Linked DNA regions of Homo sapiens. The protein of the gene in region 2 purifies or fractionates together with the protein of the main gene of each other region. This does not show direct contact. Each region holds a gene or a part of one and is shown on either strand. Other genes may lie near its edges.

Region 1 (3,653 bases), on a different chromosome or scaffold from region 2:
CACTGTTGTAAGCCATTTTTGGTGATTGGGCGGTGTATGTCATAGCCTTCATCTTCAGGATGCTTCAGGTATACTTGGAAAGACAAGACTGGATCACATAAAATGACTAGATGGTATGCAAGGCATCATGAGGTGTAATGAAGAGCCAGAATCAGTATGGGCTGGAGGCTGCAAAGTGGCTGTCTTGGCCAAGCTGCATGATGTGTTTTTAAAAATGTTGGATTTAAACTCCTCTAGGCAAGGTGGTACTTTGCAGTGTTACAGACCCTACATGGAGGCTGCTTGTTTTATTTACTTACCTGCTTGGCTGCCCAAGACATTTGAATTTATAACCCTATTAGGCATGCTATGCTGGTTTCATGTGAGTCACTAGAAAATATTTGTTGAGCACTTCTTATTTGCCAGGCATTGTATTAGCTGCTGCTTTGGAACTGATCATAACATTTTCCAAAGTTCTTCCACTGGGAAATAGTAATAATAATAGTGGAACACCAACAAATGCTTTGCCTTTTGTATTGACTTTCCTCCCGGACTGCCTTCACATATGCTCTCTTATTTTGTCAACAATACACAACATACCTGCCTAGCAGGTAGGGCTTACTGTGTTGGGGAAACGTGGTTTCAGAGCTTTTGCAGTTTCTTCAGGTTCACACGGTTAGAATTCTGCTATTATGCTTAGTGCTTTATTATCCCACTTGATGCTCACAACAGCTTTACGGGGTAGAGTTGATGCTAATCCCCATTTTACAGGTAAGAAAATCGTTAGTGCTAAGATCCAAGTTCAGGCCTTTCCCACTCCAGAACACAGCTCCTAACTTGTTAAGCTACACTTCCTCACTAGAAGGCCAAAGTTGGAAGAAAGCTCAAAAACATCTAGTCCAGCCCCCGATGTAGATCAGGACCTGAGGTCCAGAAAGGCTTGTGTTTGTGGCAAAGCTGTGCTGCAGGAGGAGGACTAAACCAGAAGTGGGGGCCTAGGCCTTCTTTTGTCCCTAACTGGTGGCATGGCCTTGCCAGCTTCTCTGGACTTCAGTTCCCTTATTTATGTAATGAAAGGGCTTGGCCTGATTTTACACTGAGAACAATGCTGTGCTGTTATGGTCAGTATTGAAGGAGTTCACAGCCCGAGATTTTAGTTGTAACCCAGGACTCTTCCCAGCACACCACACTCCCTCCCTACCCAAGCTCCATCTCCTTGTGCAATCACGGTTTTCTAAAGTTTAATTCTGAAGTTCATCTGTATTTTCCATCTCAGTTTCTGTTTCCTCTCATTTCCAAAAACTGAGGTAAGTGGTTTGTAAACACTGACTTTTTGTAAATTCATCTCTTCAGTCATTGTGGTTAGGGATTTGGAAAGTTCTAGGCAATTAATAATCCTCAGTCAGTAGTGTTTTCACTCTCTTCTGAAGGCATTTAGGTCTGGAGGCACCCTGGAGGGAATTTTCCTGTGGAATTCTGTGGACACAGCTATGTGGCAGGCAGTGTGCTGCAAACTGGGGGAAGAGTAGATGGGGGAATAGACTTAGGCTTCATGAGTCCTTGCCCTCAGGTTGTCAACTCTCCTGGAGCTGTGGGTCAACCCTGAGCATCTGAGAGTTTATAAATGACCTGGGGTGTGTGTTGATGGTGCACAACCAGAGTTGAGAACCACTGTTTCTCGGACCTTATCTGATCTAGAGCCTATGTCCCAGACTTGAACATGCACTTGAACCACCTCAGGATCTTGTTTGAAGGCAGATTCTGATTGGGTGGGTCTGGGCTCCCAGGGATACTGCCGCTGCTGGTATGCACATCACACCTATCGTAGCCAGGGAAGAGACTGCACATAGAGAATTATAAATCAGTAGGATCAGGAAGGTATGTACAGAAGACTGGGATCACAGATGAGGCTGCAATTAATTTTCCCTGAGGTGAGAGGATTAGGAAAGCCACATAGAAGAGTGATTATCTTAGCTGGGCCTTGAAGGTTGAGTTGAAGTTTGCCAGCTGGACAAGGAAGAGGAAATAATAGCACAAGCAAACATACAGACTCAGAAGAGCATGGTTTTTCAGGGAACAGGTGGTCTGGTGAGAACATGGCATCTGCAAAAGCGAATCTGAAAGCCAGTTCCACCACAGAGCCACGGTGGAACTGGAGTAAGTTGAATGCTCTGCTAAGGAGCTTACTTAAGCACTATTCTTTAAGTATAGGAACACTACAGAAGGTGTCTGTGCAGGATAAGAGAAGACCCAGGCCATTCTTACAGCAGGAATCAAGATGAAGAAACCCAAATAGTTCCCCTGCCCCCACACCCCTTCTCACCACACCTTTGCCTCTATGTAAGTTTGTGGCTTTTTACCATGTGTGAATGAGTCCTGTGTCTAACATACTTCAACAAAAAGGGGAAACCTCAGCTGCTGTTGGTATGGTGGTCCTTCCCAGGGCTTCCAGCAGTAAACATAAGAACCTTAATCTCTGCCAGTCAAATCCTCCCTTTTCTGTACCTCAGAGTCTGATCGTCATTCAGTGGACTGAACTAAGGGAAGTTGAATCACTTCTCAGATGAGAAGATTTCAGAGGGGGAAGCCTTTATAGAGATTGTGTTCTCGATTAGAAAGGGCGTGACTCCAACTTGCCTTCTTGATGAGGTTGCATTCTGTTGCAGGAAACATAAACCAAACTTACCCATGCCTCCTTCACCAAATCAAAAGCCAAATAACTGAACAAAAAGTACACATCCGTTCTTATCCTGAAAGGAATAGGGGGAAGGAGGGGAGCTGGAAACCTGGCATTCTTCATCCCAAATTCCTTACTAATAGGAGGAGATCATCTTTCACTTCATTCCTTAAGATTCGGTTTCCAATCCTGCTCTCAGAATCCAGCTCCGTGAAGCAGCAGTCACTGCATGGGTGATTGATAAAGCTCCATGGGGCTTCTGTAACAGTGCTGATTTTATAAGCACACCTTCTAGAAGCCACTTAGAGACTGCTCCATTGGAGACACTAATGTTCCTATTTTTCTCTACTTTTCCCAGCTCTGTGTTTGAAAAACTGGCCTTTCATTCTTATGACTTATAGTAAAATTGTCATCAGGTCAGTGTGTGCCTGTCTCCTGTTTTGTAGCATTTTGAGTTTTCCAAATCATCCTTATATCTGTAATGCTTAAAGAGGAGTGGAAGGTAGAAGGGTGGGGAGTTGTTTAATCCGGAAGGGGCCCTCTGGGCCTGGATATGGAACTACAGCTCCCTTATGCTGGTGGTTTGCAATTGAGCTACAGTACTGCTGAGTGGCGGAGCAAGAGGCTATTTATAACCCTGAGAATTTTGCAATGTTACTGAATTCCTTTGACCTAATTTCTACTTCCTTTCTAGAATGAAAATGAAGGGAGTAAGCAAACACGTGCTGGAAGGGTTCCCTATAAGGAGATCCTTTATCCTGGGAATATTATCTGGAGAACAGAATTATTTCTAGTCTCCTATCTCCTGATGTTTCTTTTCGATAGGGAGAAAAGCAGAGGGAGGTTTTCCTCTTTCTTTCAACTAGAGTTAGGGGTGCTAACCCTGATTTTTCAGTAAGACTTATTCTAATGTTTGATATGAAAACAACAGTTTTTTATTTTATTTTTATTTTTTAATAGAGACAGGATCTCACTTTGTCACCCAGGCTAGAGTTCA
Region 2 (3,653 bases):
GACATCTGTCTGTATGAGCGCAGCATAGACCTGGGACGGCCCACTCTCCTGTCGTCAAAGTCAGGCTGTGGTGGGAGAACAGGGTGGTTAGCAGCTGTAGCCTGGGGAAGGTGGCCCCAGCCTTCCTGTCACCTTCTTCCTCCACCTAGGCAGGGCAGAGTTGTGGGGCTGAGTGGAGCATCAGCACAAAAGTTCCTGGCTGGCTGAGGCTAGGGCGTTCTTGTAGAATGAAGAATGTGGATGACCTTTACTCCTGGTTCCTGGAAGGTAATATCTAAAACTTTGGAATTTCCTATGTGATAGTAGTATCCTTGTTATTATTCATGGTGGCCCCCTTGACCATACTTGATTTTATGCTAATAAGATGGCTCCTGATGGCCAGAAAGACCAGCTCTATGATTATAGGGCTGGGCTGGGGCTTTAAGCCATGTGGTATCAGCTCAACCTCCAGGGAGTGGACAGGCCCAGAGACTGATTTCCATCACATGGCCAATGGTTCAATCTATCATGACTACATAATAAAACCCCAATAAAAACTCTGGACATTAGGCTCTAGTGAACTTCTCTGGCTGGTAATCATACATCAATGTGCCAGAAGGGGGATGCATCTGGAATACGTGGAAACTTCATGTTTGGGACCCTCCTGGACCTCACTCTGTGTCTCTTTACCTGGCTGGTCTTGATTTGTATCATAAACTGAAATCATAAGTATCATGCTTTCCTGAGTTCTGTGAATTATTCTAGTGAATTATGAAACCTGATGGGGTAGTGGGAATCTCCCAGTTTGTAACCAGTTAGGCAGAAGTGTGGGTGGCCTGGGTCCCTGAAGCTTATGGTTGGTGTTTGAAGTGGGAAGTGTCTAAGACTGTGCTTCTAACCTGTGAAATGTGACCTAACTCCAGGGAGTTAGCACCAGAATTGCATTACAGGGACTTCATGTAGGGAGTATTGAAAGTGACAAACTGCCTCATGGAAAAAAATCTTTGAATCAAGAGACCTGAGTGCATCTGTAGGTTCTTCCAGTAATTCACTTTTCTTCTCTGGGTCTCAGTTTTACCATCTGTAAAATGGGAAGGCTGGACCAGATGGTTTTAAAGGAATTGCATGGCCTTGACATTTTATAACACCAGTTAATAAGGAAAAGGATGAAGAAGCACCCCGTAAGCACCAGGCTCATGGCCTCTTTAGGCCAAGGAGCTCAGCGGTCAAAATCACTGGCCTTAAACTAACAGAGCCAGATGCAAATTCTGCCCCACATTCATTTGCCACATAGCCTCTGGCAAGTTGCCTGACCTTCTGAACCTCAGAAGAAATACAAAGGATTAAAAATCTTTCCTGCCTCTCAGGCTTGTGGTGAGGATTAAATGACCTAGTAGATGTCAAGTGCTTGAATCAGGCCTGGCACATAGTAGATGCTGCATCAGTGTAGCTTTCATTATTATTACACAGTCCCTTGAGTAGTTGGTATCTGCACAATCCAGTTGTAACTGGAGTTTGTCTGGGGGTTACTTTTGCTGGACCAAGTTTCCAGGAGGGTTCCCCTGGATGGGATCCAGCAATGCTGGCCATCATTATCTTCTCTTTGGAAGCAGCTTCCTTTGCTGGATCCCCTCCAACTTCAGCCTCCAGCATGCTTCCCTGCCCCACCCTGCACAATCCCACCCCTCCAAGCCATAGGAACCACCCATACCATCTCTCGGACACCGTACTCCTTCTCCACCTTCATTTTCAGGTTCTTGAAACATTCCTCCATCCGGTCATGGAAGGGTCGCAAGTTATCTGACACCCTTTTCTCATGGATCTTAATCCCAGCTCCCAAGAAGGGGATCTGGAGAGAAAGTGGTAAAGAATGAGCCAGAGGCTGACCGGTGGGCCTCAGCCTGGCACCCCGCCCATCAAGGCAGCTGCAGTCAAGTCTGCCTGCTAAGAATTCATCAAGGGCTTCAGGGTCCTCAGAAACCTGCACACACGGTCCCCAGCCATGGGAAATGGGGAAAGTTGCAAACATGAGGTTTGCTCTGGAAAGGAGAGAAAGACCCCCAGCTTCCCTTGCCTCATAGGAGGGCTGGACTCCCCTCTTCCCCATGAAAGGCCACATGGTTGGGAAAATTGCCCCCTTAAAGAATCTACTTGGGGGCAGAGTGTGGGGATCAGAGGAGGGGAATCTCTGTTGCATTGATTTAAAACCTTGCCTAAGATGTTCTTGGCAATACTAAAGTGAAAGGATGAATGTCAGAAGCTGAGAGATAGAGGAAGGCAAGAGCTGAGAGAAAACAGAGGAGGGGGCATAGCCTCATCTTACCACATGGAGCCAATTGCACTTCATACAGCTGCTGAAGAAGGATATGAATGTGCTAATATCATAAAGTTAACCCCCCAGTAGGGAGCTCTGAAAAATGATAATAAAAGCCTTAGGAAGATGAGGGAAGAAGAGAGGATTGATGTGAGGGAGTTGAAGTCTTATTTGTCCCCATAGGAGGTCAGTGGATACTGTCTAAGTGTCAGCTACCTTAAGGGAGAGTAGCAGAGCCATGGTGGGCACTGTCAGAAAGAGAACTGAGAACTTTAGTTGTGTGGTCTCAGGGAAACATAACCAGGGGAGCAAAGGGGTAGATTATGAATTACTTGGGGGAAAAATTGCTTTCATGATGGTGACATAAAGATATTTCTGCTTACTTCTATTGGAGGTCTCCCAGAAATGACAAGGTGAAGGAGAAACTGAAATCTTCAGTGAAACTTGGAGACATTCATAAACCTGCCACACAATATGTGTGCCAGGAGGTGGGAGGACATAACTGACCTTCCAGAGCTTCCAGAGCAGAGGAGGGAGGTGGTGATAAGAAGCCAATCTGCCTACATGAAGCCAGGAGGGCCTCAGAGATTGGAGGCACCAGGTACTACAGAGAAGGCGGGTGAGCTGAGGGGCCAAACACAGAGGAATGTGTTGAAGTTCTGTATCAGGAGCAGTTAGATTGCCTGACTGCCTCACCCTGCAGCCAAGTGTTCTTTTTTCCCATTTTCCCAAGAAGGAGGAGTTTATCCTCTAGAACAATTAGAACAAGGAGCTCTGGGCTTAGGGGCATCAGGCACAACAGAAGGCAGAAGCAGAAGCCAGACTGCAAATAAGAAGTTGAAGAGAAAGTCTGCATTTGGGTCCTGAGAGCTCCACTTCCCAATTCCCAAATGGCCAGCAGAGTAGCAGCTGGGATTATCTTTCTATATAACAGCTTGAAGGGTCTGACTCTGGAGAATGTGAATGGTCCCATGTAGAGAGAGACGTCTGTGGGTCATTCCGTTGCCACACAGCAATGCTACCCAGTTGCCAAGGCCCTCTCTCTTGTACTCAGATTTTCTTTTTCTTTAGCCTTGCTCTTAACTATGAAGAGAATGCCAAGTATCACCAGACACTGGAGGAAAGTCTCCAATAGGAAAGACAGAGACCAGACCAACAGATAGGGAAGAAAGCAAATAAGGAAGAAAAGAAGGAAAGAATAAAGGAAGAAAAAACAGAATGAATTTGGAAGAAATAGAATAAAGAGAGCCTAAGAAAACATGTTTTTCTAAAAAATTTAACTAATATATAGGAACAGAAAAGATCCTTCATTCATGAAAAAGACAAAGATTTTATATAAAAAAGGAAGCTAATGGAAAAA
Region 3 (3,653 bases), on a different chromosome or scaffold from region 2:
CTTGAGACATTCGCAAAAGCATTCTTCCACTTTGGTAGTAATCCTTAAATAGAAATAAATATTAGTTTTTACTTATAGTTCTATGACTAAAAATTTGGCTTTATTTTTACTGTTACATTTTCATTGTATTATCATCAGTTTACCTCTAGAAGTTCCGAATGTGTACTCTTGAGATGTCGAGGATGAGACAAATCTAAGAAAGGGCGACTGACAACTAGGTAACCAACAACAGTGGCAAGGTCTGAAACCAAACAGGTAAGATTTAAAACAGTAACAGTATTTCACCTTTTCCACAAATCTCATCTCTTTCAAAATATACTTACATTTGGCAATAATACTATCAATGAAGCCCATTGAAAACCGAAACAAAATGAAATTATGTAGGTGTTCCACCTGGCAGAAAACAAAAACAAAAAACCATCTTTTTCTCTGTATAAAAAACTGAATCTACTATAAGGATAAAACAAACTGTATAGTTCATTTATTCAACAAATATTTACTGAGTGCCCGTGATTTCTGTTTATATTCTGTTTATATTGTACATCACACCACCGAGGACAATGCTCTTCACAGAGCGGGTGCCAAACAAACACTTCATGAAACCATTTTTATGCAAACAGCATGGAAATTACATAAACAATTTTAACAATGCTGTTTCTCTTGCATGCAATAGCACAATGCTATTGTAGTCACCATGCTTTTGGATACACATATCCCAAAAGAGGACAACAACGAAAGCAAAAAGAACAGAGATTAACTAGTTTGAGTGAAACACTAGCTGTCCGGATTGGCACTGAATGCTTTGCTTTCAGTGGAGACACATGGTCTGTGCTTTATCTAAGAATTGTATTACACCCAATCTGAACTGAGTGCTAATGTAAATCAGTGCCACACAGCCTCAGTTTTAGCTTTAACATGAGCACGCATTGTCTTAAAACTACAAGTCTAAAACTGCTTTTTTATTCTGGAGTTGTAGTGTTCTCAAACTGTCCATCTACCAGATTATTCAAGGTCCTGCATGATCTGGCACTGAGCTCTATTTTTAAGGTCATATGCTTCTACTTTGCTCCTCCTCACCAAGCTCCAGAAATAACGGTTTCTCAAACATGTACCTTCTTAAGGATTTCCTCTTGCTCTTCTCACTGCCAGGAATACATTCTTCTAAGGTATCTATATTTTGTGACTCCTTCACTTTCATGTGGATTTCTGACTAAATGTCACCTCCTCAAGAAAGATCTTGGCCATTCCAGCTAAAGTAGCTGGGCAATAGCCCCCTTCATATCTATCCCTTTATCCTGCTTCATTTTTGGCCACCGAATTCATTACTACCTGAAATTATACAGAACATCTAGTTGTTTATTTATTGTCTGCTCCACTAAAATGTGGCTTCCTGAGTACAGGGTAGCTTGTTAACAACTTGGTATCTTCTGCAACTAGACAATCTCTGGAACATTTATTCAATGACTACCATGTGTCAGACACTGTGCTCAAGCTGGAGATACAATGAATAGAACAGAGAAGGTCCCTGAATTTATGGAGTTTACATTCTAATGAAAGAGCATAACTAGTAAACAAGATAATTAGAGACTGTAATACAGTCATCCCTCGGTATCCAAAGGGGATGGGATTGGTTCCAGGACCTTCTGGATACCAAAATCCATGGATGCTCAAGTCCCTGATGAAAAATGGCATAGTATTTGCATATACCTGAGTACGACATCCCATACACTTTATTTACTTTTTGAGACAGAGTCTCACTCTGTCGCCAAGGCTGGAGTGCAGTGGTGCCATCTTGGCTCAATGCAACCTCCGCCTCCTGGGTTCCAGTGATTCTCCTGCCTCAGCCTCCCGAGTAGCTGGGATTATAGGCCCCCGCCACAACAACCGGCTAATTTTTGTATTTTTAGTAGAGATGGGGTTTTGCCATGTTGGTCAGGCTGGTCTCGAACTCCTGACCTCAACTGATCTGCCCGCCTCAGCCTCCCAAAGTGCTGGGATTACAGGGGTGAGCCACCGCAACTGGCTCATCCCAAACACTTTAAGTCATCTCTAAATTACTTATAAAACTTAATACAATGTAAATAGCTATTACACTAATGTCTGTATTGTTCAGAGAATAATGACAAGAAAAAAATATGTGTACATAAGTACAGACACAATTTCTTTTTCTGAATATTTTCAATCTGTGTGGTTGAATCCATGGATTTGGAACCCACAGATGCAGAGGGTTGACTGCAAATATATATATACTTTTAAGGAAAGATGATGATTAAAACAAGAAGTAACTGTTGGAGGCCATTTCAAATAGGCTGATCAGAGAAGACAAAGCTTCAATAAGGTGTTAACATTTGGGCTGAAAATCTAAAGGATGAGAATAAGCAAGCCGTGTGGAGAGCAAACTGGTGAACTGCAGGCCCCTGAAAAATTACCTTAAATGCATTCTACCAGTGAGCACTCTAAAAGTTCTGCCATGTTAAATACCGACGAGGCAAAAATCCAATTTCTGAAATAATTTAAAATGACAATTTCTTTAACCTCTTTAACTCATCTAAAATATACATTTAATTTCACAAACTTCAGACTTCCACTAAAATGTAAGCTCCTTAAAGGCAAGATTTTATCCATCATGTCCACCACCATCATCCTTAGCACCTGGAGTGAGCACAGGCAACTAGACGGCATTCAATATCTTTTGAATAAATAATGGAATAAAAGTACTTGAATTCAAATTTTCCAAGTGGCAATTAAATAAAAACTGAAGTAAAGCTTTCACAAGAAACAATGCTTATATTCTTTAAAACAAAAAGCCAGTAAACTCTGACCCATAGTCCAAATCTAGCCTGCTACTTGTTTTTTTAAGTAAAGTTTTATTAGAACATAGCCACACCCACTCATTCATGTATTATATATAGCTACTCTTGAGTAGCGGAGCTGAATAGTTGCAAGACACTGTGTGGTATGAAAAGCCTAAAATATATACATACTATCTTGCCCTTTATGGAAAAAGTTTGCTGACTCTTGCTTTACATAATAATCTTTATTGTATTTTCATGAATGCTTCAGGAACAAATTCTTTCTGTGGGAATCACTAAATAAGGCTCCTAAGCAACCTCTGTAAAAATACACTTAATTTTTTTTTTATGTTTTTGATTATACTTTAAGTTCTAGGGTACATGTGCACAACGTGCAGGTTTGTTACATATGCATGCATTTGCCATGTTGGTGTGCTGCACTCATTAAGTCGTCATTTACATTAGGTATATCTCCTAATGCTATCCCTCCCCCAGGCCCCCACCCCACAACAGGCCCCGGTGTGTGGTGTTCCCCACCCTGGGTCCAGGTGTTCTCATTGTTCAATTCCCACCTATGAGTGAGAACATGCAGTGTTTGGTTTTCCGTCCTTGCAACAGTTTGCTCAGAATGATGGTTGCCAGCTGCATCCATGTCCCCACAAAGGACATGAACTCATAATTTTTATGGCTGCATAGTATTCCATGGTGTATATGTGCCACATTTTCTTTGTCCAGTCTATCACTGATGGACATTCGGGTTGGTTCCAAGTCTTTGCTATTGTGAATAGTGCCACAATAAACGTATGTGTGCATGTGTCTTTATAGCAGCATGATTATAATCCTTTGGGTATATACCCAGTA

The links.
Region 1: the proteins of DOCK2 (region 2) and ELMO2 purify together in Homo sapiens (affinity purification with mass spectrometry, with the first as the bait; one large-scale study listed by BioGRID). This does not show direct contact.
Region 3: the proteins of DOCK2 (region 2) and ABCD3 purify together in Homo sapiens (affinity purification with mass spectrometry, with the first as the bait; one large-scale study listed by BioGRID). This does not show direct contact.

What each region holds. Positions count from the first base shown.
Region 1 is NC_000020.11:46,400,100-46,403,752, reverse strand, and holds part of ELMO2 (engulfment and cell motility protein 2), read left to right. Parts: intron 1-3,653. UniProt on the Homo sapiens protein: Involved in cytoskeletal rearrangements required for phagocytosis of apoptotic cells and cell motility. Acts in association with DOCK1 and CRK. Was initially proposed to be required in complex with DOCK1 to activate Rac Rho small GTPases.
Region 2 is NC_000005.10:170,074,122-170,077,774, reverse strand, and holds part of DOCK2 (dedicator of cytokinesis protein 2), read right to left. Parts: intron 1,829-3,653; coding exon 1,691-1,828; intron 66-1,690; coding exon 1-65. UniProt on the Homo sapiens protein: Involved in cytoskeletal rearrangements required for lymphocyte migration in response of chemokines. Activates RAC1 and RAC2, but not CDC42, by functioning as a guanine nucleotide exchange factor (GEF), which exchanges bound GDP for free GTP.
Region 3 is NC_000001.11:94,484,282-94,487,934, reverse strand, and holds part of ABCD3 (ATP-binding cassette sub-family D member 3), read right to left. Parts: intron 394-3,653; coding exon 324-393; intron 242-323; coding exon 144-241; intron 44-143; coding exon 1-43. UniProt on the Homo sapiens protein: Broad substrate specificity ATP-dependent transporter of the ATP-binding cassette (ABC) family that catalyzes the transport of long-chain fatty acids (LCFA)-CoA, dicarboxylic acids-CoA, long-branched-chain fatty acids-CoA and bile acids from the cytosol to the peroxisome lumen for beta-oxydation.